Homo sapiens: one gene and its partners. The protein of the gene in region 3 purifies or fractionates together with the protein of the main gene of each other region. This does not show direct contact. Each region holds a gene or a part of one and is shown on either strand. Other genes may lie near its edges.

What was found.
Region 1: the proteins of ZC3H3 (region 3) and GNL2 purify together in Homo sapiens (affinity purification with mass spectrometry; 3 studies listed by BioGRID and IntAct, with this or other methods). This does not show direct contact.
Region 2: the proteins of ZC3H3 (region 3) and TRUB2 purify together in Homo sapiens (affinity purification with mass spectrometry; 3 studies listed by BioGRID and IntAct, with this or other methods). This does not show direct contact.
Region 4: the proteins of ZC3H3 (region 3) and PTCD1 purify together in Homo sapiens (affinity purification with mass spectrometry; 3 studies listed by BioGRID and IntAct, with this or other methods). This does not show direct contact.
Region 5: the proteins of ZC3H3 (region 3) and RPL26L1 purify together in Homo sapiens (affinity purification with mass spectrometry; 3 studies listed by BioGRID and IntAct, with this or other methods). This does not show direct contact.
Region 6: the proteins of ZC3H3 (region 3) and MALSU1 purify together in Homo sapiens (affinity purification with mass spectrometry; 3 studies listed by BioGRID and IntAct, with this or other methods). This does not show direct contact.
Region 7: the proteins of ZC3H3 (region 3) and MRPS35 purify together in Homo sapiens (affinity purification with mass spectrometry; 3 studies listed by BioGRID and IntAct, with this or other methods). This does not show direct contact.

Annotation. Positions count from the first base shown.
Region 1 is NC_000001.11:37,582,438-37,585,937, forward strand, and holds part of GNL2 (nucleolar GTP-binding protein 2), read right to left. Parts: intron 1,497-3,500; coding exon 1,430-1,496; intron 500-1,429; coding exon 341-499; intron 1-340. UniProt on the Homo sapiens protein: GTPase that associates with pre-60S ribosomal subunits in the nucleolus and is required for their nuclear export and maturation.
Region 2 is NC_000009.12:128,315,948-128,319,447, forward strand, and holds part of TRUB2 (pseudouridylate synthase TRUB2, mitochondrial), read right to left. Parts: intron 1,280-3,500; coding exon 1,205-1,279; intron 953-1,204; exon of another isoform or gene 1-952. UniProt on the Homo sapiens protein: Minor enzyme contributing to the isomerization of uridine to pseudouridine (pseudouridylation) of specific mitochondrial mRNAs (mt-mRNAs) such as COXI and COXIII mt-mRNAs.
Region 3 is NC_000008.11:143,468,448-143,471,947, forward strand, and holds part of ZC3H3 (zinc finger CCCH domain-containing protein 3), read right to left. Parts: intron 213-3,500; coding exon 170-212; intron 94-169; coding exon 1-93. UniProt on the Homo sapiens protein: Required for the export of polyadenylated mRNAs from the nucleus. Enhances ACVR1B-induced SMAD-dependent transcription. Binds to single-stranded DNA but not to double-stranded DNA in vitro. Involved in RNA cleavage.
Region 4 is NC_000007.14:99,428,799-99,432,298, forward strand, and holds part of PTCD1 (pentatricopeptide repeat-containing protein 1, mitochondrial), read right to left. Parts: intron 1,009-3,500; coding exon 790-1,008; intron 407-789; coding exon 305-406; intron 1-304. Other genes in the region: ATP5MF-PTCD1 (ATP5J2-PTCD1 fusion protein), read right to left, coding at 305-406, 790-1,008. UniProt on the Homo sapiens protein: Mitochondrial protein implicated in negative regulation of leucine tRNA levels, as well as negative regulation of mitochondria-encoded proteins and COX activity. Also affects the 3'-processing of mitochondrial tRNAs.
Region 5 is NC_000005.10:172,965,924-172,969,423, reverse strand, and holds part of RPL26L1 (ribosomal protein uL24-like), read right to left. Parts: intron 966-3,500; coding exon 825-965; intron 12-824; coding exon 1-11.
Region 6 is NC_000007.14:23,302,339-23,305,838, reverse strand, and holds part of MALSU1 (mitochondrial assembly of ribosomal large subunit protein 1), read right to left. Parts: intron 1-3,500. UniProt on the Homo sapiens protein: Required for normal mitochondrial ribosome function and mitochondrial translation. May play a role in ribosome biogenesis by preventing premature association of the 28S and 39S ribosomal subunits.
Region 7 is NC_000012.12:27,724,332-27,727,831, reverse strand, and holds part of MRPS35 (small ribosomal subunit protein mS35 isoform 1 precursor), read right to left. Parts: intron 2,256-3,500; coding exon of another isoform or gene 2,247-2,255; exon of another isoform or gene 1-2,246.

The DNA of each region.
Region 1 (3,500 bases), on a different chromosome or scaffold from region 3:
TTGTCTAAGGAAAATGTTAGCTATAATTCTTTGAAATGTTTTTTCCAAGTATAACAGTTAATGCTTTGTTCTTCTGTCTTATAAATACAAAACAATATTCCAAAAAATGTCTTCATTGTTACTAAATGCAATTAATGGAGCATAATGTGAAGCAGGCAGTGGCCTCAGAAGCCGTCTCCTGGTGCCTCTGCCCACTATCAATGAGCACACTTTCGTGTTTCCAATGAGAGCACTCCCATTACTACAATCTCAGCCGGACAACACTTTAGCCTAAAAGCCCTACAACTGACTTACTAACAGATGTCTTAATAGTCTATTCTGGTTTAGTAGTTGTACTTACTGTTGCCCAGGTTGGAACAAGGTCACATTTGTTAAGTACAAAAATGAGGTGTTTCCAAGGTTTTTCCTTCTTCAGGTAAGTTTCAATGTGAGGGGAACGAGTACCCATTGGATCTCTAGCATCAAGAACTTGAACTACAACATCTGATGAATCTATCACCTGAAAATTCAGAAAGGCAAAAATGGTTTGCTACAGTACAAATAAAAGAGGGATGACATTTAAGGGAGTCTGGGAAAAATAAAATAATAATATTTAGAGACAACTTCAAAACAGTCTCTGGGCAGAGTTCGTTGTGGCTAATCTCAAGGCCCAGTGATCAGAATTCAAAAGGTTTTTCATCCTGTGGCTTTTGAAACCTGCTGAATTTAAAACAGAAAAACTAGCTTAGATGAAACTCAACTTATTTCCTAACTACTATGGATTATTGAACTAAATCATTTACTTCTTAGACTTCTTTAAGTTTGTAATATTATCTTTAAGTTTGTAATATTATAGGTTTTGTGTATTTCACAAAAAACTACAAAGTTTAGCTTGCCTTCACGGTACTAGTTTCCTATCATGTTACTATTTAATTACGTGATTATACTTGAAAATTTTTCTTCTGAAGGTTATTATTAGTGCATGGACATAAACCTCTGCCGGTTAAAGATCACTGGATCAGAAATCAAGATATACAAAGCCTCCTTCACTAACAAGCTAGTCGAGCTAGGTACAGCATTAAACCTTTCTAGACAGGAGTCCTCATCGATAAAAGGAGAGGGGTGGACTAAATAACTTAAAATGTTGCATGTGACTTTAACTAGGCATGATAAATTTGGCAGGAAATCTTAAAAAATACTGACAGGTAATAAATATGTGATTGTATAATAAAAGATAGCTGTTACTCTTATACAAGTACTTTAAAAAATGCAGTTACCTAGATCAATGGTAGTACGCCTTCCGAGTTTCTTTGTAGGAGGAAGAGGATGGAACAGGCAGTGGTGCCTGTACTCTGCGCAACAGAGCTTCAATATATCAAAATTAGTTTTCTTCTACAAAATCATGAAAGCCCAAGGAACCACTCAATGGGAGAGAATTTAGGAGTCTTACCTTGTAGAGCTCACCCCATATTCTTTTGGACTGTCCCTTTTTATAGATCTCTTCTTGAGCTTCATTTCTAAATAAGAAAGCACCCCAAATGAGCAACTGAAGCACCATCAAGACTAAAAGGATGCTTTAGGGTAAAGTCAATGTACCAAAAAAAACAGTATCAAACCCAGTTGGAGATGGACCAGAAACAAACTGAATTTAAAAAGTGTGCCCAAATGTCTGTCAACAAATAAATGGATAAACACAATGTGGCACATATATACACAAGATAGCATTCAACTTTAAAAAAGAAGGAAATTCCAGCTGGCTCAGTGGCTCACACCTGTAATTCCAGCACTTTGGGAGGCCAAGGAGGGCAGACTGCTTGAGCCCAGGAGTTCGAGACCAGCCTGGGCAACATGGCAAAACCCCATCTCCACAAAAAATACAAAAATTAGCTGGGCATAGTGGTGCATGCCTGTAATCCCAGCTACTGGGGAGACTGGGGTGGGAGAACTCCTTGAGCCCAGGAGGTTGAGGCTGCAGTGAGCCATGAGCAGGCTACTGCTCCAGCCTGGGTGACAGAGCAAGACCCTGTCTCAAAAAATAATTAATTAAAAAAAAAAAAAAAAGAAGAAGAAAATTCTGACACCTGCTACAACACGAATGAACCTTGAAGACATTATGCTAAGTGAAATAAGCCAGACACAAAAGGACAAATACTGTATGATTCCACTTATATTAGGCACCTAAACCAGTCAAATTCATGAGAGAGAAAGTAGAATGTTGTTACCAGGGGCTGGGGGAGAGGGGAAACGGACCGTTAGTGTTAAATGGGTACAGGGTTTCAGTTTGGGATGATGAAAAAGTTCTGGAGATGGATAGCTGCAATGATTGCACAACAATGTAAATGAACTTAGTATCACTAAACTGTACACTTGAAAATGGTTAGAAGAGCTGGGCACAGTGGCTCACACTTGTAATCCCAGCACTTTGGGAGGCTGAGGCAGTGGATCATAAGGCCAGGAGTTCGAGACCAGCCTGACCAACATGGTGAAACCCTGTCTCTACTAAAAATACAAAAAAATTAGCCAGACGTGGTGGCGGGCACCTGTAATCCCAGCCACTCGGGAGGCTGAGGCTGGAGAATCGCTTGAACCCGGGAGGCAGAGATTGCAGTGAGCCGAGATCACATCAAATGGTTAGAAGAGTACTTTTTTTTTTTTTTTTTTGAGACGGAGTCTCGCTCTGTCGCCCAGGCTGGAATGAGTGGTGCGATCTTGGCTCACTGCAACCTCCGCCTCCCGGGTTTAAGCGATTCCCCAGCCTCAGCCTCCCAAGTAGCTGGTACTACAGGTGTGCGCCCCTGCGTCCAGCTAATTTGTGTATTTTTAGTAGGGACTGGGTTTCACCATGTTGGTCAGGCTGGTCTCAAACTACTGACCTCAGGTGATCCGCCCGCCTCAGCCTCCCAAAGTGCTAGCATTACAGGTGTGAGCCACTGCGTCTGGCCACATTTTTTGTTACATATATTTTACCACAATAAAACATTAAACTAAAAAAAAGCATGACTGAATTAGGCAGTATGTCACAGAGAATTACAAAATGGAATTGGCAGGACCTGAATCACAACCTATACTCCATAGCTCCCATATACAGCAGTATTTTTCTGATAAGGTTTAGAATCTGTTTATTTACTAGTCTCTAGGACATTTACCCAAGGTAAACAAAAATAGTTTTGTCTTTACTGCATTACCTACTATACCTGTTGCGGAAGGAAAAATTCAAATCGGCAGAATACAAAGCCAACGAAAGTTCAAATAATTCTAAGAACAAATAAATGAACTCACTGCCTCTTTTTGCTTGGCCTCAAATGGCTTGACATTTTATCTCTAGGTGGCCCAATGCTTGAAGATGGGCTGACAATAGCAATGAGGTAATAACACTGATGCAGTCAAAGGACAATGCCTCTTCACTAAGACAGCAAAACCTCCACTTCATTTAAGAGACATGAGATGGACGAGAATGAGAGCTTTCTAGCACTGCCCAAGGGAAATGAAATTAAACCCTTTCTCAAGAGCAATGTGGCAGC
Region 2 (3,500 bases), on a different chromosome or scaffold from region 3:
GGACAGCTCTGAGTATAATCTTTAGCCTCTTTGAGCGTCAAGTTCCCCATCAGTAAAATGGGGGTAAAAATACTGTCTGAAGGCCAGGCGCAGTGGCTCATGCCTGTAATCCCAGAACTTTGGGAGGCCGAGGCAGGTGGATCACCTGAGGTCAGGAGTTTGAGACCAGCTTGGCCAACATGGTGAAACCCCATCTCTACCAAAAAATACAAAATTAACCAGGTGTGGTGCTACACTACACTCCAGCTTGGGCAACAAGAGTGAGACTCCGTCTCACAAAAAAAAAAAAAAAAAATTAGCCAGGCGTGGTGGCGGGCACCTGTAATCCCACCTACTCGGGAGGCTAAGGCAGGGAGAATTGCTTGAACCCAGGAGGCGGAGGTTCCAGTGAGCCGAGATCATGCCATTGCACTCCAGCCTGGGAGACAGAGCAAGACTCTGTCTCAGGAAAAAAAAAAAATACTGATTCCTGTGGGTGCTGTGCAGTCGGCACAGAGGAAGGGCCCAATAAACGGTGGCCACTGTGGTCACTTCCTGCCTTTCTCCCGGTCTGTTTCTCCCTCTGGCTGAGGGACAGAATAACTCTGCATTCACTCGTGGGGAGACAGAACAGGGAGAGGGGGCATGAGATCATGTCTGCCTGCCTGTGCCTCAGGAAGCAAGACAAGGGGACTGTGACTGTCGCGGCTGGAGGATGTGGGCACCACCTGACCCTGGGGACACAGATGGCTCATGACTAGGGCTTTGTGTGTCCAGACCCAGCCACATGCAGGCCCTGGCCATTAGGTCCAGAGTCACGCGCCTGGCTGCCCCATGATGCAATGATGGTTTTCCTTCTCCGGACCAGGGGTATTCACTGGCCATGGGACCCAGAACAAGTCACCTAAATCCTACTTTCTTCTTCCATAAAATCATATAGTATCTACCTAATAAAGTTGTTGTGGTAAATAAATGTGCATAAAGGGCCTCGAACTATGTCATGTGTGGGAATCACTGAATAAAGGTGGGTGACTGTGGTATTAACCTGTGATTACCTCCGTCCCACCTATCCACTCCCCAGCTGATCAGCCTTGGGGCAGGAATCAGGGCAGGAGAGGAGTGGTGGGACGTGGGTGCCAGGTAAGAAGTGGGCTGGGCTCCTGGTAGCTTCAGGATCTTTTCTCAAGCCTTATCACTGTACCCCCAGGCTTCTCACATCACCTACCAAGTACTCCAGAAGCCTGGGCATCCAACCGATGTCCCACGCCAACCTTGAGATGGGCGAATGCTGGTCCACATACTGGAAAGAAACAAACAAGGTCCATTTTCTCAACTAAATGCCACCCCAGGATGGCTTTGGGCTGCATGTTGACCTCGTTCTCAGAATGGGCCTCATGGAGCCCAAACTAGCATCAGGCCAGACTCTCAGGCTTCCCCGTCATGGAATCTGGGACCCTGAACTGTATCCTCAGTGCCCTGGGATCCAAAGGGCAGCCCAAGATGCCTCTTACTCTGCCTATCATCAGTCTCCCAGTGAGAGGCTCTAAGAAGACTGGCGTAACACTGAAGGTCAAGAGTGCGGGGTTCCCTGCCCAGCTCTACTGAGGAAGAGTCCCTGGAGGAAAATGGAGGCTGTGAGCTCCTTAAGGCAGAACCTGGGTGTGTCAACTCACTAGCTGCTCAGGAAAGAACTACTGAAAGAATAAATGCAGGAATGAGCCAGAAGTGTTTACACTTCTACAGATTAAGAGGAATCTAGGGGAAGAGTCCAGGGTAGTTAAGGGCCTATTGAATCCAGGCCATGTTACTAAATGTCAACACTGAGCCTCAGTTTTCTCCCTTGTGAAATGAAAATAGGACCCATCTCACAGCACTGTGGTGATATCAATGAGGATTGTACTTGGGGGAAGCTTAACACAATGCCTAGTACAGAGTGGCGACTCAATACATTATACTTCTTATTGTTACCATATAATAGAGTCATTGAATATCACAAGTCCAACGGGTTTTTGAGGTTTCTGGTCAAACCTCTAGATTCCCTGACACATGCCTTAATCACATCTAGTGATGGGGACACATTACCAGAACCAGTTCCATTGTTGGGCAACTTTATTCAGTAAAAAAATCACTCTTTCGGCTGGGCGCAGTGGCTCACACCTGTAATCCCAGCACTTTGGGAGGCCAAGGTGGGCGGATCACCTGAGGTCAGGAGTTCGAGACCAGCCTGGCCAACATGGTGAAACCCCATCTCTACTAAAAATACAAAAATTAGCTGGGTGTGGTGGCACACACCTGTAATCCCAGCTACTTGGGAGGCTGAGGCAAGAGAATAGCTTGAACCTGGGAGATGGAGGTTGCAGTGAGCTGAGATCACACCACTGCACTCCAGACTCCAGCCTGGGCAACAGAGCAAGACTCTGTCAAATAAATAAATAAATAAACTTATTCTTTCCCAGAAACCCAAAACCCCTACCTTAGGACTTCTACCTAGGGTCTCATTTCTCACCTGGAGTCCCAGAATAGAAAAAGGGTCAGCAAACTACAGTCCACAAGTCAAACCTGAAGACTGAAGACTGTTTTTTTTTTGTGTGTGTGTGTTTGCTTGTTTTGTTTTGTTTTGTTTTGAGATGGAGTCTCACTTTGTCACCCAGGCTGGAGTGCAGTGGCGCCATCTCAACTCACTGCAACCTCCACCTCCCAGATTCAAGCGATTCTCATGCCTCAGCCTCCTGAGTAGCTAGGATTACAGGCACCTGCCTCCATACCTAGCTAATTTTTTGTATTTTTAGTAGAGACGGAGTTTCATCATGTTGGCCAGGCTGGTCTTGAACTCTTGACCTCAAGTGATCCGCCTGCCTCGGCCTCCCAAAGTGCTGGGATTACATGAATGAGCCACCGCATCTGGCTTGTTTTTTGTGGCCTATGAGTTAAGAATGGTTTTTGCATTTTTCAGTGGTTCAAAATAAATCAAGAGACCAGTTGCAAGGGCTCACGCTTATAATCCCAGCACTTTGAGACGCCGAGGCAGGCAGATCACTTGAGCCCAGGAGTTCAATACTAGCATGGGCAACGTGACAAAACCCCATCTCTACAAAAAATACAAAAATTAGCCAGGCATGGCCGGGCGTGGTGGCTCACACCTGTAATCCCAGCACTTTGGGAGGCCGAGGCGGGTGGATCACGAGGTCAGGAGATCGAGACTATCCTGCCTAACATGGTGAAACCCCGTCTCTACTAAAAATACAAAAAATTAGCTGGGCGTGGTGGCGGGCGCCTGTAGTCCCAGCTACTCGGGAGGCTGAGGCAGGAGAATGGCGTGAACCCAGGAGGAGAAGCTTGCAGTGAGCCGAGATCGTGCCACTGCACTCCAGCCTGGGCAACAGAGCATGACTCCGTCTCAAAAAAAAAAAAAAAATTAGCCAGGCATAGTGGCCTGTGCCTGTAGTCCCAGCTACTCGGGAGGCTTAGGTGAGAAGACTGCTTGAACTCAGGAGGCAGAGGTTTCAGTGAGCCGAGATCTC
Region 3 (3,500 bases):
CCGAAGCGGTTGTAGTACATGCAGTACTCCTTCCTCTTCTCCCTGCGCTGCCGCGCCTGCCGGATGATGGCCAGGCTGCGCTGCACTGCCCGGCTGCAGACGGGGAGAGAGGTGCGTGAGCCTGAGGGCGAGCAGGGAGCCCACCCACTGCCCAGCCCAAAGGCATTACCTGGCCAGGGAACGGCTACAGCTGCCTGCAGGATCCAGCCGGCCTGTGGGGGAGAGAGGCACGGGTCATAGCAGGCCACAGCCTGGCCCGCACGCCCTTTCCCTGCTGACCCCCTTAGTCGAGGCCCTCAGGGGTCCCAACACTCAGCTCAGGCACAGCCTCCCCTCCAGGAAACTGCCCAGAGCTCCCCTCCCCACAGTGGTTCAGATGCCCTGGGCCCTGCCAGGCCCCTCTGGGGACACAGCACCTGAGAGTGGGGAGCTGCTGGGCCCTGTGTCTAGCTCCTCTCCAGGGCAGGGTCCGGGCAGGGCTCCTGTCCCTGCCCTCAGAGCCAGCAAAGCCAGGCAGCACCCGCGGAGGGCTTGGCCACGTGGGCTGGAGACGCCCGCCTGTCCCTGCTGCCTCCCTGGCCAGGCTCCCCAGGGCCACGCTTTGCTGGCTGGAACCCCCCTGCTGGCTTCCTCATGTCCCTGGGTGCCCACCCTGGGCCAAGGCAGTGACTGGCCTATGGACACTGCTCCTGGCTCTCTCCTCAGCCCTGGCCACCCAGGAAGCTGCCCTGTAAACAGAACAGCTGCTAACAGCAGCACCTCCCTCTGCCAGGGCCTGGGCTGGCAGGACCCGCGGGGTCACTTAGACCAGGGGGTGAATATGGCCCATGGGGCACACATGGTCTGGCCTTTTGGGAGCAAGAATGGCTTCTGACTTTTAGAGGGCTATAAAACTAAAGACATGCAGCAGAGAAGGTGTGGGGGCAAAGCCCGCTTGGCGGAGGCATCTGCCCAGCTGCCCACTGCAGCTGTGGAGGTCTGGGGGAAGGGCACCTGTCCCTGAAGCCCTGGGCTGGCGCTGGCAGATCCTGGCTAGTGTCTGTTACTCTAAATTTTAGAGGTGCCTCATCAGATGCTCCTCAAAACCCCAAGCATAAGCACCACCCCCGCCTTTCTGAAACCGCACACCACGGCCTGGGAGGGCGGCCTGGGAGTGCGGTGGTGGCAGGAAGGAAATGGACCTTGGGGCTGGACATGGCCGAGTGCTGCCAGGCCTGAGAGCCAAGGGGATGAGGCGGGGAGGGGGTGCCATCTGGAGGAGGAGGGTCTGCTCCGGTGACACAGCCCTGCCTGCCTTTTACAGACAGAGGTCACCCAGGATCACGGGGTGGGCAGGGCAGGACCAGCCTGCTGAGGGCGGCTTTCCCGGGTTCCTCAAATACGCGCATGATCCTTCCCAGACCAGATCCAATTTCCTACAGGGCAAATGCTGAAATGGACACTGCAGTTAAGAGGCAGAGGTGACATCACTCAGAAATTCTGGGGACCTGAGGTGGTGACAAAGCCATCCTGGTTTAAAAAGGGATGTCCCAAAGCCGCCCAGCCCCAAATAGCCAGACCTGCCCCACTCTTGAGCACCAGAGAGCAGCCTCGTCCTCACTCTCCCAGATGGCCCAGCAGCCGCAGACTCCCACCCGAGGACCCAAGGCTTCCGCTCCCTCGCACCCCCAGGCTGGAGCCCCCCCCACTCCTCGCTTTGTGCTTTGCGTCCAGCCCAGTGCTCCCTAGCTAGGGTCAGTGGTGCTGCTGCCCTTCACCCTCAGGGGCCCTGCCTACTGTCCCCACTCAGCCCGTCTCAAGTTTCAAAAGGGCAGCTCCAGAGCTGAGTGGCCAGCGAGCCCGGCTGGGGCAGGAGCAGGAGCTAGTCATGGTACCTGGGGCAGGAAAGGGGGCGTTGAAGAACGCAGAAACCTGAGGCGTGTGGGGGGCCAGGGGCAAAGGGAGGGTGATGAGGGTCTTGGTGCGGAGGGACCAACGCGGGGGTGCTCAGGGCAGCCCCCGTTCTCAGGCCGGGACCCTTGTCCCCGGGTGGGCAGCAGGGCCCAGTCCAGACGGCACGGGCACGCCCTCACACCTGCCAGCCTGTGGGGTGAGGGACGCGGCAATGCGGCGGTCTGTCGGCACTGCTGGTTCCCAGTCTCTCGCCCAGGCTGCCAGTGACACTGCGACGCCATCTGCTCCAGGCAGGGACACACTGGCATCACGTGCCCGCCTGGCAGGACCGGGTGCAGCAGGAGGGGTTACCTCCCTTTCCACTTTGTGCTCTTTAAAAAAATGCCAGTGTGAGGCTCACGGCAGGAGTTCTGACAAGAACAGGAGGCACTTTTTCAAATGCTTTGCAGTGTTAAAAAATGCACATAAAATAGCTGGCTGGAAAAGAAGCAAGGGCTGCCTGAGAAGTGCTAAAAAGTTCAACTGAATAACCCCCAGCAGCTCCACAGCAGAAGGCGCCATGCATTCCAGAGAACTTTCACTTCCCCGGGATCTTCTCAGAATAGACTCGGCTCCCACCAGCCCCACCCCCTGCTCGGTGCCCCAGTGCCAGCTCTGGGCACCGCTGGATGTCAGGCTCTGCAAGGCAAGCGGGGTGGGGGCCTTGCAGTCAGAGGTTCCTCAGCACCTCCAGGCCCTGCTCCGGCCAGCACCCACTGGACAGCTGCTGCCTGGCCCAAGGGACAACATCCACGATGACCGGGGCACGCAGGCAGCCCCAATTCCCAGGCCAGCACTCTCCCAAGAAGTTAGGCAGGGCTGCGCCAAGCCCTGGTCTGCTCACAGCGCGCCCACCAGGCCCTCCAGGGCACGTCCGTCTGGCACATGGAGGCTGTGCCCTTGGGAGAAGGCAGCCAGCGGCAGAGGGTGCCCCAGAAGAGGCAGTGTGGGGCGGGGGCAAGCCGACAGGGCCTTCGTCACCCCAGGGAGGGTGGGCAGGTGACCAGCAGGGGAGGCGCAGAGGCCGGACGTGCCAGGAACACGCAGCAGCTGGCCCACAGCAGGGAGGGCCACGGCCACAGGTGGCTGGGGGCTTTGGGGACACAGAACAAGCCAAGGCCAGCCCTGTGGCCAGAGACTGGGGCCTCTGCCCCACCACAGGAGCCATCAGGCTCATGGTGGCCACATATGGGCCATGCTCACTGGGGGCCCACACAGGATTCTGTGGGGAGGGACCCTGGAGCTCAGGCCTTCAGGTGGCAGGCGGGCCCAGGAGGGAGGGCTCGGCTTCAGGGACTGGGGAAGCTGGGGGTAGAAGCCATACTGTCCTCTGCCGTCAGGGGCCCAGAGCCCAGGGGGTCAGCCAGGACAGCCACCCCCACCCCTTCCAAGAAGGCTGCTGCACTTTCTTGTTGAAGTCAAATTTCTGCTGACACCAGGGGAGGAAATTTATTTCTTTAATTATTATTCCTCTTAAGTGGGCTGGTCAGCGGTATCCCACAGCTGGGAGCCATCTACCTTCCTCATGGCGAGGCGGGGCCGGTGGTGGCCCAGGCAGCTGGAGCTGT
Region 4 (3,500 bases), on a different chromosome or scaffold from region 3:
TGTGGGAGGGTTGAACAAGTCCCCAGGTGAGTGTGTGGCAGGCTTTCAAGGAAGGTGAGTTTAGAGGGGCTAAGCCGACTGCAAAGCAGGGTGGGAGGGGCGGGGGCCACCCTCATTCCATCTCCAAGGGCCTCCTCTCCCTGCCATCTGTAGAATGGAGGCTACAGTGGCTGCTGGGTTTTCAGAAAAGAGCACAGATATAAAAATACTCAGCACAGGGCCATCGTGGGTGCTCACAGGATCACCATTTTGCACCTCTGGCACCGGGGAAGCAGGGCAGGAAGGTGGGGTGGGAGGGACATACCTGGAGGGCGTACCGGAAGCCTGTCTTCTTGTCTTGGATGCAGCCCATGAGCAGGAAACTGAAGGTCTCCTCTGTGACCACGTGCCCTTTGTGGATGATTTCCTGGGGGAGGGAACAAAGACGTCCCACTGAGAACCTGCAGCAGGCTGGGCATGGTAGCTCATGTCTGTAATCCTGGCACATTGGGAGGCCAAGGCAGGATGATCACTTGAGGCCAGGAGTTTTGTGACCAGCCTGGGCAACATAGCAAGACCCTGTCTCTAGGAAGCCTTCCCTCGAGTGCACAAAGCAGGACACAGCACACGGTGGCATACACAATCTCCAGTAAGGTCTCATCAGATCCATCTGTGAACCCCAGGGCCCAATACCGGCTGTCTCATCCTCCCTAAGCCTTCCTACATGAGGAGAGACAGACACCACAGCCCTGCCCCTGACACGTGGGACCAGCCCCATGAAGGGGAGCAGGACGGCAGGGGAAGCCCCACCTTGAACACATCGAGGCACATCCTAAGGTCTGCGCACTTGGCAGCCATCTTCAGCAGCGCGTGGTATGTTTTCAAGTTGAGCTCGAAGTTTTTGGCCTGCAGCTGCTGCCGGAGCTTCAGGGCGCTCTGTAGAGCTGAGTCCTTCCAGGGGGACTCGGCACAGACGTTGAACAGGGCCGTGTAGGTGGCGTCCGAGGGCTCCAGGTCCCGCTTTTTCATCTGTGGAGATGGAAGAAGCTCAGTGGTGGCCCGGGATCAGCTGGACGCACAGGTGAGCAGCTGCCCCAGAGGAGGCTGAGGCTGGAGAGGACCCCGTCACTGCATCCACCAGGCCAGGCTCTAAGGCAGAGCCATGGACACATCAGAGCCCAGCTCTCCAAACTCAGACACATTGAAGGGACTCTGAAAACTGAGCCCACACACCCAGATGTACCAAACAGGAGCTACCCTGCCCTGGGCACTTGTCAGCCCACTCCAGGCCTGGGGTCCTGGCAGCAAGGTCTTCCTGATGTCCCCACCTTCAGGCCACCCCGTCAAGGGGAAAGGGCCTGTAGTGCTTACTACCTGAGGGCTCCCGGGCAAGTTAGCACTTCCTCGCGAAAATGGGGATGACACCATCACCTTGAAACCAGGCATGCCTGTGGCAAGTGGGAGGATGCACTGCAGTGCTCTAGGGGTGGCCCCGAACCAGTGGCACAATGCACATTCTCAGGGCCACCTGATCTGGTAAGTCACAAGCCCCGGAGCTGAGTGACACTCAGCTTACTGAGCCTCCAGGGGACTAAGGCATGTGCTCAGGGTTGACAATCCGTGGTGAAGCCTAGCACTCGCTATTGGCCAGAGAAGGGCCATCTGGACAAAGGCAGGCGATAGGCAGCTCAGCGGCAGAAAGAACCCTGCTAGAGTCAGGCCATCTGGGGCTCAAATCCCAGCCCCGGTGCATTCAAGTGGGGTGGCCTTGGACATGTCCCTTCATCTCTCTGTGCCTCAGTTTCCTTATCTGAAAAGCAAAGAGGGCAGTCCCTACTTTGAGGATGATGTAAGCTCTGCGTGTATTGCTGCACTCCACAGAGGTGCACTGACAACTCACTACCTGCCCAGCAGCAGCCCTGGGGTTAGCAGAGCGGGCACAGCCTATCCTTACTGAGCTTACACTCAAGAAGGGAGACACACTGCAGGTGAGTCACCAAAAACAGTAACAAGGCTGGGTGCCGTGGCTCACGCCTATAATCCCAGCACTTTGGAAGGCTGAGGTGGGCAGATCACCTGAGGTCAGGAGTTCGAGACCAGCCTGGCCAACATGGCGAAACCCCGTCTTCTACAAAAAACACAAAAAAATTAGCCAGGCATGGTGGTGGGCGCCTTTAATCCCAGCTACTCGGGAGGCTGAGGCAGGAGAATTGCTTGAACCTGGGAGGTGGAGGTTGCATTGAGCCGAGGTCGCACCACTGCACTCCAGCCAGGGTGACAGAGCCAAAACTCCCGTCTCAAAAAAATAAATAAATAAAATAAAATAAATAAAAACAATAAAAATATTAGTTTTTTTTCTTTTTTTTTGAGATGGAGTCTTACTCTGTCGCCAGGCTAGAGTGCAGTGGCGTGATCTCGGCTCACTACGACCTCCCTCCACTTCCTGGGTTCAAGTGATTCCCTTGCCTCAGCCTCCTGAGTAGCTGGGACTACAGGTACGTGCCACCACGCCCAGCTAAATTTTGTATTTTTAGTAGAGACAGGGTTTCACCATGTTGGCCAGGATGGTCTCAATCTCTTGACCTCGTGATCCGCCCACTTTGGGCTCCCAAAATGGTGGGATTACAGGTGTGAGCCACCGCACCTGGCCAAAAATAATAGTTTTTTAAAATAGATGTAATGGGCTGGGTGCGGTGGCTCACGCCTGTAATTCTAGCACTTTGGGAGGCCAAGGCGGGTGGACCACTTGAGGTCAAGAGACCAGCCTGGCCAACATGGTGAAATGCTGTCTCTACTAAAAATACAAACAAAATGAGCCAGGCATGGTGGCATGTGCGCCTGTAGTCCCAGCTACTCGGGAGGCTGAGGTATGAGAACTGCTCGAGCCCAGGAGGCGGAGGTTCCAGTGAGCCGAGGTCGCACCACTGCACTCCAGCCTGGGCGACAGAGCGAGACTCTGTCTCCAAAAAAAAAGGACTGTAGGAAAAAGAAAGAGAGATCAGACTGTTACTGTGTCTATGTAGAAAGAAGTAGACACAAGAAACTCCATTTTGTTCTGTACTAAGAGAAATTCTTCTGCCTTGAGATGCTGTTAAACTGTAACCCTAGCCCCAACCCTGTGCTTGCAGAGACATGAGCTGTGTTGACTCAAGGTTTAATGGATTTAGGGCTGTGCAGGGTGTGCTTTGTTAAAAAAGTGCTTGAAGGCAGTAGGCTTGATAAAAGTCATCGCCATTCTCCAATCTCGAGTACCCAGGGACACAATACACTGCGGAAGGCCGCAGGGACCTCTGCCCAGGAAAGCCAGGTATTGTCCAAGGTTTCTCCCCATGTGATAGCCTGAGATATGGCCTCGTGGGAAGGGAAAGACCTGACTGTCTCCCAGCCTGTCCCCCAGCCCGACGCCCATAAAGGGTCTGTGCTGAGGAGGGTTAGTGAAAGAGGAAGGCCTCTTTGCAGTTGAGATAAGAGGAAGGCATCTGTCTCCTGCTCGTCCCTGGGAATGGAATGTCTTGGGTGTA
Region 5 (3,500 bases), on a different chromosome or scaffold from region 3:
GTGATAACCACCTGTTGGGAGTGAGAAAACAGGTCTTTATTTCTGCATCCCCACCAGCTATTGAGCAATATAGACATCATAAGTTAAGTAAGACCTCAGCCATTCAGCTTTTAAGGAACTGAAACTCTGGAAGGAAAACAGACCCTGTAACACAATACAAAATAGGAACACAAAGGAAAAATAGCATGTTCCACTAGGTAGGCATGAGGGCTACAGGAAGATATATTCTCTCTTATTCCTCTGAATATTATGTGGTAGGGGAAGTGATGCCTAGAACACTTGGAAGCCTCTTGCAACCAGCTTAAAGACACAGCCATCGGCCGGCCATGATGGCTCACACCTGTAATCCCAACACTTTGGAAAGCCGAGGCGGGCGGATCACGAGGTCAGGAGATCGAGACCATCCTGGCCAACATGGTGAAACCCCATCTCTATTAAAAATATAAAAATTAGCTGGGCGTGGTGGTGTGTGCCTGTAGTCCCAGCTACTTGGGAGGCTGAGGCAGGAGAATTGCTTGAACCCAGGAGGTGGAGGTTGCAGTGAGCCGAGATCGCACCACAGCACTCCAGCCTGGTGACAGAGCGAGCATCCGTCTCAAAAAAAAAAAAAAAAAAAAAAAGACACAGCCATCACCAAGAAAGGCAAAACAGAAAAGAGAAGAGAAGAAAAATCTGGATCCTTGATGATATCACAAAGCTACTGAATCAATCAAGTCCACCTGGCCTGCCTCAGCCAACTGTGCAGGGAGTACCAAAACACCAATAACTTTGAACAGTATTGACACACTCCATGGCTGCTACTGCCACTCAGTCCTTGACCATACCTTGCTTGGGTGAATGCCCACGTGGACAGTTGTGCCGTTGGCCTTCTCACGCTGCACCCGCTCGATGTAGATGACATATTTCTTTCTGTACACCTGGACTACCTTGCCAATTTGCTGACCTTTGTAGTGTCCTCGAACTACCTAAGAGAAAATACAAAAGAGAATCCCCCTCCATTTGTAGTGCATGATCATAAAGAGGAAGCTAACCATCAGGAACACATGGGCTAAACATATAACTTTGTCAAAAGCAGCTTAATCCTGGCAGTCAAAAATTAGCTACTTTTCTGATATAAATCTGTGTTGTGCTATGGTTGGGTGGAGATTTTTTACCTGGATCCCACAGAAATGTGCGATATGAGCTTTAGAGGAAAAAGGAGAATACAAAACTACATATAGAATATACTCTGAACTATATATATATACATATATATGTCAAGTATCCCTTATTCGAAATGCTTGAGACCAGAAGTGTTTTGGATTTAGGGTTTTTGGGATTTTGGAATATCTGCATTACTAGCTAAGCACCCCAAATCTGAAAATCTGAAATCCCAAAAGCTCCAAAGAACACTTCCTTTGACCATCACGTTGACAAAGTCTCAGATTTTGGAGCATTCTGAATTTGAGATACTCAAACTATATGAGTGTATGTGTGTGTGTATATATATAATATATATTACATATGTGCGTATATGTATTTATATGTCATATATACATACACGTATCATATACATACACATATGTACTTATATGTAACATACATATATGTCATACATACATATATGTACTTATATGTCATATATACATATATGTGTATACATACGTATATATGTGTATATATGTATATATACACACACATTTCATATATATAGCATGACACAGTGGGATAAAATATATATATAAATATTGGTAACAGCTGCCATTAGGCAGGAAGCAGGATTACAGATGACTGATTTTTAGATTTATATTCTTCTAAATTTCAACATTTCTACATTTAATACAAATATTTTAAAGTCAGAAAAAAAATTTTAAATCTCACAGACTGTTTTACTGTACTAAAAATCTACTCTATTCAAAAACCAACTAGATTAGGGTTTCCTTGAAAGCAAGAGCTTATTTATTTATTTATTTATTTTTGACACGGAGTCTCGCTCTGTTCCCCCAGGCTGGAGGGCACTGGCATGATCTTGGCTCACTGCAACCTCCACCTCCCAGGTTCAAGTGATTCTCCTGCCTCAGCCTCCCAAGTAGCTGGGATTATAGGCACGCACCAGCAGGCCTGGCTAATTTTTGTATTTTTAGTAGAGACCAGGTTTCGCCATATTGGCCAGGCTGGTCTCGAACTCCTGACCTCAAGTGATCTGCCTGCCTCGGCCTCCCAAAGTGCTGGGATTACAGGTGTGAGCCACCATGCCCAGCCACAAGAGCTTATTAAACACCATGCATGGGGGCCGGGCACGGTGGTTCACACCTGTAATCCCAGCACTTTGGGAGGCCAAAGCCGGTGGATCATGAGGTCAAGAGATCGAGACCATCCAGGCCAACATGGTGAAACCCTGTCTCTACTAAAAATACAAAAATTAGCTGGGCGTGGTGGTGGGCGCCTGTAGACCCAGCTACTCGGGGGGCTGAGGCAGGAGAATCACTTGAACCTGGAAGGCGGAGGTTGCAGTGAGCTGAGATGGTGCCACTGCACTCCAGGCTGGCGACAGAGCGAGACACCGCCTCAAAAAAAAAAAACCACCAGGTACGATGTGACTCTGATTAATAAGCATAGAGGAGATACCACATATAAAGAACTAGAGAACCCCAATACTCCTAAAATGTCTACGTATAGCTTGTTTGGCTTATTTTCCAAGGCGATTTTTAGGTTGAAGAGGACAATCATATCTCAGTGAAAAATCTACCACAGACTACATGACCAGAGACTCTCAGGACACACCTGGAAGAAGTCTTGTTAATACCATCAAGACTGAAGAAATACACACATACACACTTTTTTTAAGAGACAGGGTTTCACTATGCTGCCCAGGCTGGTCTCAAACACCTGAGCTCAAGAGATCCACCCACCTTGGCCTTCCAAAGTGCTGGGATTACATGTGTGAGCCACTGCACCTGGCCAAGACTGAAGAAAGATCTTAGGCCGGGCATGGTGGCTCACAGCTGTAATCCTGGTACTTTAGGAAGCTCAGGCAGGTGGACTGCTTGAGTCCAGGAGTTGGAGACCAGCCGAGGCAACATAGCAAGACCCCGTCTCTACAAAAAAAAAAAAAAAAAAAAAAAAAAAAATAGTTAGCCAGACATGGTGGCATGCGCCTATGATCCCAGCTACTCGGGAGGCTGAGGTGGGAGGATCACTTGAACCCAGGAGGTTGAGTCTGCAGCAACCTGTTTTTGCACCACTGTACTCCAGCCTGGGTGACAGAGTGAGATCCTGTCTCAAAATAAAATAAAATAAAAAATTAATTTAAAAAATTTTTAAAAAGAGAAGTGGACAACCTCTGGACATAGTGAAGAGGAAGACAGGAGACAGGATAAGACTAAGTCGGCTGGTCGACTAGACTGGAGAGGTGAGGATGAAGAGGGAAGGATGATACTCAGAGTCTGGCTTGGGCAACCAGGTGGATGGCAATGCCATTGCCAGATGCAGAGATCATAGGGGAAGCCCCGTATTTTAGG
Region 6 (3,500 bases), on a different chromosome or scaffold from region 3:
CAGATGCCAGTAAATGGAAAGATACTTCATATTCATGGATGGGAAGACAATATTGTAAAGATGCCAATACTACCCAATGCAGTCTACAGATTCAGTGCAATCTATATCAAGATCACAATATTTTTTGAAGAAACAGAAAAATCCAACCTAAACTTTATGTGGGGCCAGACACGGTGGCTCACACCTGTAATCCCAGCCCTTTGGGAGGCCAAGGCGGGTGCATCACCTGAGGTTAGGAGTTTAAGACCAGCCTAGCCAAAATGGTGAAACCTCATCTCTACTAAAAATACAAAAAATTAGCTGGGCATGGTGGCGGGCACCTGTAACCTCAGCTACTTGGGAGGCTGAGGCAGGAGAATTGCTTGAATCTGTGAGCCGAGATTGTGCCACTGTACTACAGCCTGGGCAACAAAAGCGAAACTCCATCTCAAAAAAAAAAAAAAAATTATATGGACTCTCAAGGAACCCCAAATAGCCAAAACAATCTTGTAAAAGAACAAAGTTGGAGTCTCATATTTCTTGATTTCAAAACTTAGAACAAAGCTATGGTAAACAAAACAGTCTGAAACTGGCAAAAAGACAGACGCACAGACTGATGAAACAGAATACAGAGCCCAGAAATAAACCCTTGTGCCTATGGTCAAATGATTTTCAACAATGGAGCCAAGACCATTCAATGCACAAAGGACAGTCCTTCCAACAAACGTTGCTGAGGAAATGTCCACATGGAAAACTAACCGCCTACAAAAACTAACTCAAAATGGGTTAAATATCTAAACAGGAGACTTAAAACTATAAAACTCTTAGAAGAAAATAGGGAAAACATGATACTGGTTTGGCAATTATTTATTAGATATAATACCAAAGACACAGGCAACAGAAGAAAAAATAAACTGAACTTCACCAAAATTAAATACTTTCGTGCATCAAAGGACACTCTAAAGAGTAAAAAGGCAACCCACAGAATGGCAGAAAACATCTGCAAATCACATATTTGATAAGGGATTAATATCCAGAATATATAGAGAGCTCCTACAACTCAACAACAAAACAACAAACAACCTGATTTTAAAATGGGCAAAGAGTCTGGGCAATATAGTGAGACCCTGTCTCTATAAAAAATAAATTAGCTGGGCACTGTGGAGTAACTCCTACCATTCTACTTTCTGTCTCTATGAATTTGACTACTCCTACTCCTCTAGTCCTAGCAACTTGGGAGGCTGAGGTGAGAGGATCACTCGAGCCCAGAAGTTCCAGGCTGCAGTGAGCTATGACCACACCACTGCACTGAAGCCTGGGCAACAAAGTGAGACACTGTCTCTTTAAAACAAACAAAAAAGCAAAGGACTTTTCTTCAAAGAATATATACAAATGGCCAATAAGCAAAAGAAAATATGCTCAACATCACTAATCCTTAGGGAAATACAAATAAAAACCACAATGAGATATCACGTCATGCCCATTAGGATGGCTATTACCAAAATGAGAAAATAAGTTGTTGATGAGGATGTGAAGACTGGAAACTCTGCACTGCTAGAGAAATGTAAAGTGGTGTAGCCACTATGAAAGAATACAGGAGCTCCTCAAAAAATTAAAAACATTCAGCTTTGTGCTAGGCTGGTGAACAGAAAAAAAATTAAAAACAGAATCACTATATGATCCAGCAATCCCATTTCTTTGCACATACCCCAAAGCATTAAAAGCAAGGACATAAACAATTTTTTTTTTTTTTGAGACTGAGTTTCGCTCTTGTTGCCCAGGCTGGAGAGCAGTGGCACAATCTCGGCTCACTGCAACCTCCACCTCCCAGGTTCAAGCGATTCTCGTGCCTCAGCCTCCCAAGTAGCTGGGATTACAGGAACCCTCCACCACACCCAGCTAATTATTGTATTTTTAATAGAGACAGGGTTTCACCATTTTGGCCAGGCTGGTCTTGAACTCCTAACCTCAGGTGAACTACCCGCCTTGGCCTCCCAAAGTGCTGGGATTACAAGTGTGAACCCAGCCTTTTTTTTTTTTTTTTTTCTTTTGAGACAGCGTCTTGCTCTGTCACCCAGGGTGGAGTGCAGTAGTACAATCTTGGCTCACTGCAGCCTCAAGCTCCTGGGCTCAAGCAATCCTCCACCTCAGCATTCCAAGTAGCTGGGACTACAGGCACACACCACCAAGCCCAGCCAATTTTTTATTTTATTTTTTGTCTTTTTTGTAGAGATGGAGTTTCACCATGTTGCCCAGGCTGGTTTCAAACTTCTGAGCTCAAGCAATCCGCCCACCTTGGCCTCTCAAAATGCTGGGATTACAGGCATGAGCCACTGCGCCCAGCCTCATGAACAGTATTTCTATACTCATATTTATACCAGCATTATTCACAATAGCCAAAAGGTGGAAGCAATCTAAGTGTCCATCAATGAATAAGGGGATAAACAAAATGTGGTATATACGTAAGATAGAGTATTATTCAGCCTTAAGAAAGAAGGAAATTCTGGCACATGCTACTACATGGATGAACCTTGAAGACATTATGCTAAGTCAGATAAGTCGGTCACAAATCTATGATTCTACTTTTATGAGATACTGAAAAGTAGTCAAATTCATAGAGACAGGCAGTAGAATGGTAGCTGCCTACGGAAGGAGAAATGGGGAGTTATTGTTTAATGAGTTCAGAGTTTCGTTTTTGCAAAATGAAAAAATTTCTGGAGACGGATGGTGGTAATGATTGTAAGTCAATGTGAAGGTACTTAAAGCTACTGAACAACACAGTTTAAAATTGTTAAATGGGCTGGGCACAGTGGCTCATGCCTGTAATCCCAGCACTTTGGGAGGCCGAGGTGGTCAGGAGTTTGAGACCAGCCTGACCAACATGGTGAAACCCCATCTCTACTAAAAATAGAAAAATCAGCCAAGCGTGGTGGTGGGTGCCTATAATCCCACCTACTCAGGAGGCTTAGGCCGGAGAATCACTTGAACTCGGGAGGCGGAGACTGCAGTGAGCTGAGATCGAGCCACTGCACTCCAGCCTGGGCGACAGAGCGAGACTCTTGTCTCCAAAAAAAAGATTAAACGGTAGGTTTTACGTTATATATATTTTACCACAAACAACAAAACTTTCTTGCCTTTGCATTTCTCTCATCTAAAATCTTTGTAAAGGCAATTTCTATTTCTTTATTCTTTCACAGAAACTTCTCTGTAAAACCTCCCATTCTTTTTACATCCGCAAGTCCAATGGTCACTAAGTCTTCTGACTCCATCCCACTATTACATCTGATAGAGACCCTGGTATGCTGTCTTTGTATATCTCTTCTTTATGCTTTCCTAGTTCTCTCCCTATCTCTCCAATTACCCTGTTTTTGGCATCTTCTTCTGCTCTGTCATGTACCAGGGTTTTGTGTATAGGCCCCACCTTTTTATTTTACAACCTTTCTCTATACAATTTTGGCTACTCTTTTGGTCTTAACTGCCTCCTCTATGACCAATTCTCAACAGACTAAGACTAAGAAAGG
Region 7 (3,500 bases), on a different chromosome or scaffold from region 3:
ATTTACAAGCGTTCCTGGAACCAATCCCAAACAGATACTGAGGAACAACTGTATGATAATTAACAAACAATAGGTCATAGATCTAAATGTAAGAGCTAAAACTATAAAACTTTTAGGAGGAAACACAAGAGTGAATCTTTTATGACCTTGAATAAGACAATGATTTCTTACATATGACACCAAAAGCACAAGAAACAAAAGGAAAAATACTGTCATACGCCACTTAACAATATTTTTTGACAAAGACATGGCTAGGTGATTTTGTCATGTACAAACATCATTATGTATTTACACAATCCTAGGTGGTACAGCCTACTACACACCTAGACTACATGGTATAGTCAATTGCTCCTTGGCTACAAACCTGTGTAGCATGTTACTGTTAAATACTGTAACAACTGTAACAAAATTGTACTTGTGTATTTAAACATATCTAAACATAGAAAAAGTGCAGTGAAAATACAGTATTATAATCTCTTGGGACCACTGTTGTGTATGTGTTTATCACTGACCACAACATCATTATGCAGCACATGACTTACATAAATTGGACTTCATCAAAATTAAAACTTCTGTGCTTAAAAGGCTCACGCCTCTAATCCCAGCATTTTGGGAGGCTGAGGCAGGCAGATCACAAGGTCAGGAGATCGAGACCATCCTGGCTAACACGGTGAAAACCCCATCTCTACTAAAAATACAAAAAATTAGCCAGGCGTGGTGGCGGGTGCCTGTAGTTCTAGCTACTCGGGAGGCTGAGGCAGGAGAATGCTGTGAACCCAGGAGGCGGAGCTTGCAGTGAGCTGAGATCGAGCCACTGCACTCCAGCCTGGGTGACAGAGTGAGACTCCGTCTCAAAAAAAAAAAAAAAAAAGGACATCATCAAGAAAGTAAGAGGACAACCCAAAGAATGGAAGAAAATGTTTACAAATCATATATCTGAGAAGGGACTGGGACTGGTGTCCAGAATATATAAAATACACTTATAACTCAACAATCGAAAGATAAACAACCCAATTAAAAAACAGGCAAAGGATATGAACAGACATTTCTCCAAACATATACAAATAGTCAACAAGCACATGAAAAGATGGTTATTAGGGAGACACAAATCAAAACTACAATGATACTTTCATACCTATCAGAATGGCTAAAACTAAAGGACAGGTAATAACCATTAGTGAGGATGTGGAGAAATAGAAAGCCTCAAACTTGCTGGTGAAATTGTAAAATAGTGAAGCCACTTTGAAATTGTTTTTCAAAAACAGTTTGGCAGTTCCTCAAAATGTTAAATATGGAGGTGCCATGCAACTCAGTCATTCCACTGCTAGGTATATACCCAAGAGAATGGAAAACACATATCTACACAAAAACCTGTATGTGAATGTTCAACAGCATTATTCATCCAAAAAGTAGACACAACCCAAATGTCCACCAATTAATGAATGGATAAATAAAATGTGGTATATTCATAAAATAAAATATTTGGCAATAAAAAGAAATGATAAAATAATACATGCTACAACAGATGAAACCTATTGAAAACATTACACTAAGTGAAAGAAAACATATTGCATGGTTCCATTTCTGTAACACATCAAGAATAGGTAAATCCAGAGACAAAAAGTAGATTAGTGGCTAAAAGGGGCTTGAGGATGGTTAAGGGGGGAATTCTATAGCAAGTGAACTATGTCTCAATAAAGCCATTATTAAAAAGAAACAACGGCCCTGTAGTGGTGGCTCACATCTGTAATCCCAGCACTTTGGGAGCCCAAGGCAGGCAGATCGCCTGAGTCCAGGAATTTGAGACCAGCCTGGGCATCATGGCAAAACCCTGTCTCTACAAAAATTCAAAAAAATTGGCCAGGCATGGTGGCACACTCCTGCAGTTCCAGCTACTGCTCAGGAGGCTGAGATGGGAGAATCACTTGAGCCCGGATGGAAGAGACTGCAGTGAGCCAAGATCGCGCCACTGCACTTCAGCCTGGGTGACAGGGTAAGACCCTGTCTCAAAAAAAAAAAAAAAAAAAAAAAAAGGTATACAAGGAATCAATACACCACCAAAATGAGCAAATGACAAAAAATACATGTTTTGCAAAGGAATAAATCCTCAACCTCACTAGTATTCAAAGACATACAAATTTTAAATATAAGACAAATTTTTTACCTATCAAGTTGACAGGTAATATGTAGGTTGGTGAGAGCACAGGAAAGCAGGCCTTCTCACATTCTGCTGGGATTATATTTTTTTACATTTCCTGCAGGAATTTTATAATATATATCAACAAACTTCAAGAGCTATATCCTTTGACCTCATAGTTCTCCTTTCAGGAAGTTATCTTAGGAACATCATTAGAAATACATACAAATATTAATACCTAAGAATATTCATTAAAATATTTTTCTAATAAAGAAAACCATTAAAAAGCCTAAAGGTTCCATAATACAGATAAATTATGGTAGCCCTGTATTATGAAATTATTTATATATCACACTTCAGTCTCAGAAAAAAGGCTAAGTTTGAAGTGATCAACATTACACCCCCAGATTCAAACACTGTCTTGGTACATAACAATCTCTCATTTATACGTTATTCTATGCAGCCATTAAAATTAAATTAGATTGGGTGCAGTGGCTCACACCTGTAATTCCAGTGCTTTGGGAGGCGGAAGTGGGAAGATCACTTGAGCCAGGAGTTCAAGAAAAGCTGGGCAACAAAGTGAGATCCTGTATCTACAAAAAATTTAAGAAAATGGGCTGGGCAGTGTCTCACACCTGTAGTCCCAGCCACTTTGGAGGCTGAGGCAGGACAATCAATTGAACCCAGAAATTGGAGGCCACATTGAGCTATGTTAGTGCCACTACTCTCTGCCTGTCAGATCTCATCTCAAAAAAATTCAAATTAAATTAAAGAATGTTTAATATTATTGGGAAATGTTTAATTCTTGTTAAGAGACTGCTGAACACATACAGTATCATCCCATTAATATACACAAAGGCAGGCTGTGACTATATACTAAAATGAGCTACTATAGTTAACAGTGGTTACAAATAGTAGATTTACGGGCAATTTTGTAATTTTTTTTTTTTCCGAGATGGAATCTCGCTCTGTCACCCAGGTTGGAGTGCAGTGGAGCGATCTCAGCTCACTGCAACCTCTGCCTCCCGGGTTCAAGCAATTCTCCTGCCTCAGCCTCCGGAGTAGATGGGATTACAGGTGCCCACCACCACGCCCAGCTAATTTTTGTATTTTTAGTAGAGACGGGGTTTCACCATGTTGGCCAGGCTGGTCTTGAACTCCTGACCTCAGGTGATCCGCCTGACTCGGCCTCCCAAAGTGCTGGGATTACAGGCAGGAGCCACCATGCCTGGTGTATAATTTGAAACTTGTATTTTCCAAAATTTCTGTGAAAAATATTACAGTTTTATAATCACACATATCAATTTCTTTCTTTATTTTTAGAGATAGGTTCTTGCTATGTTGCCCAGGCTGGCGTCAAATT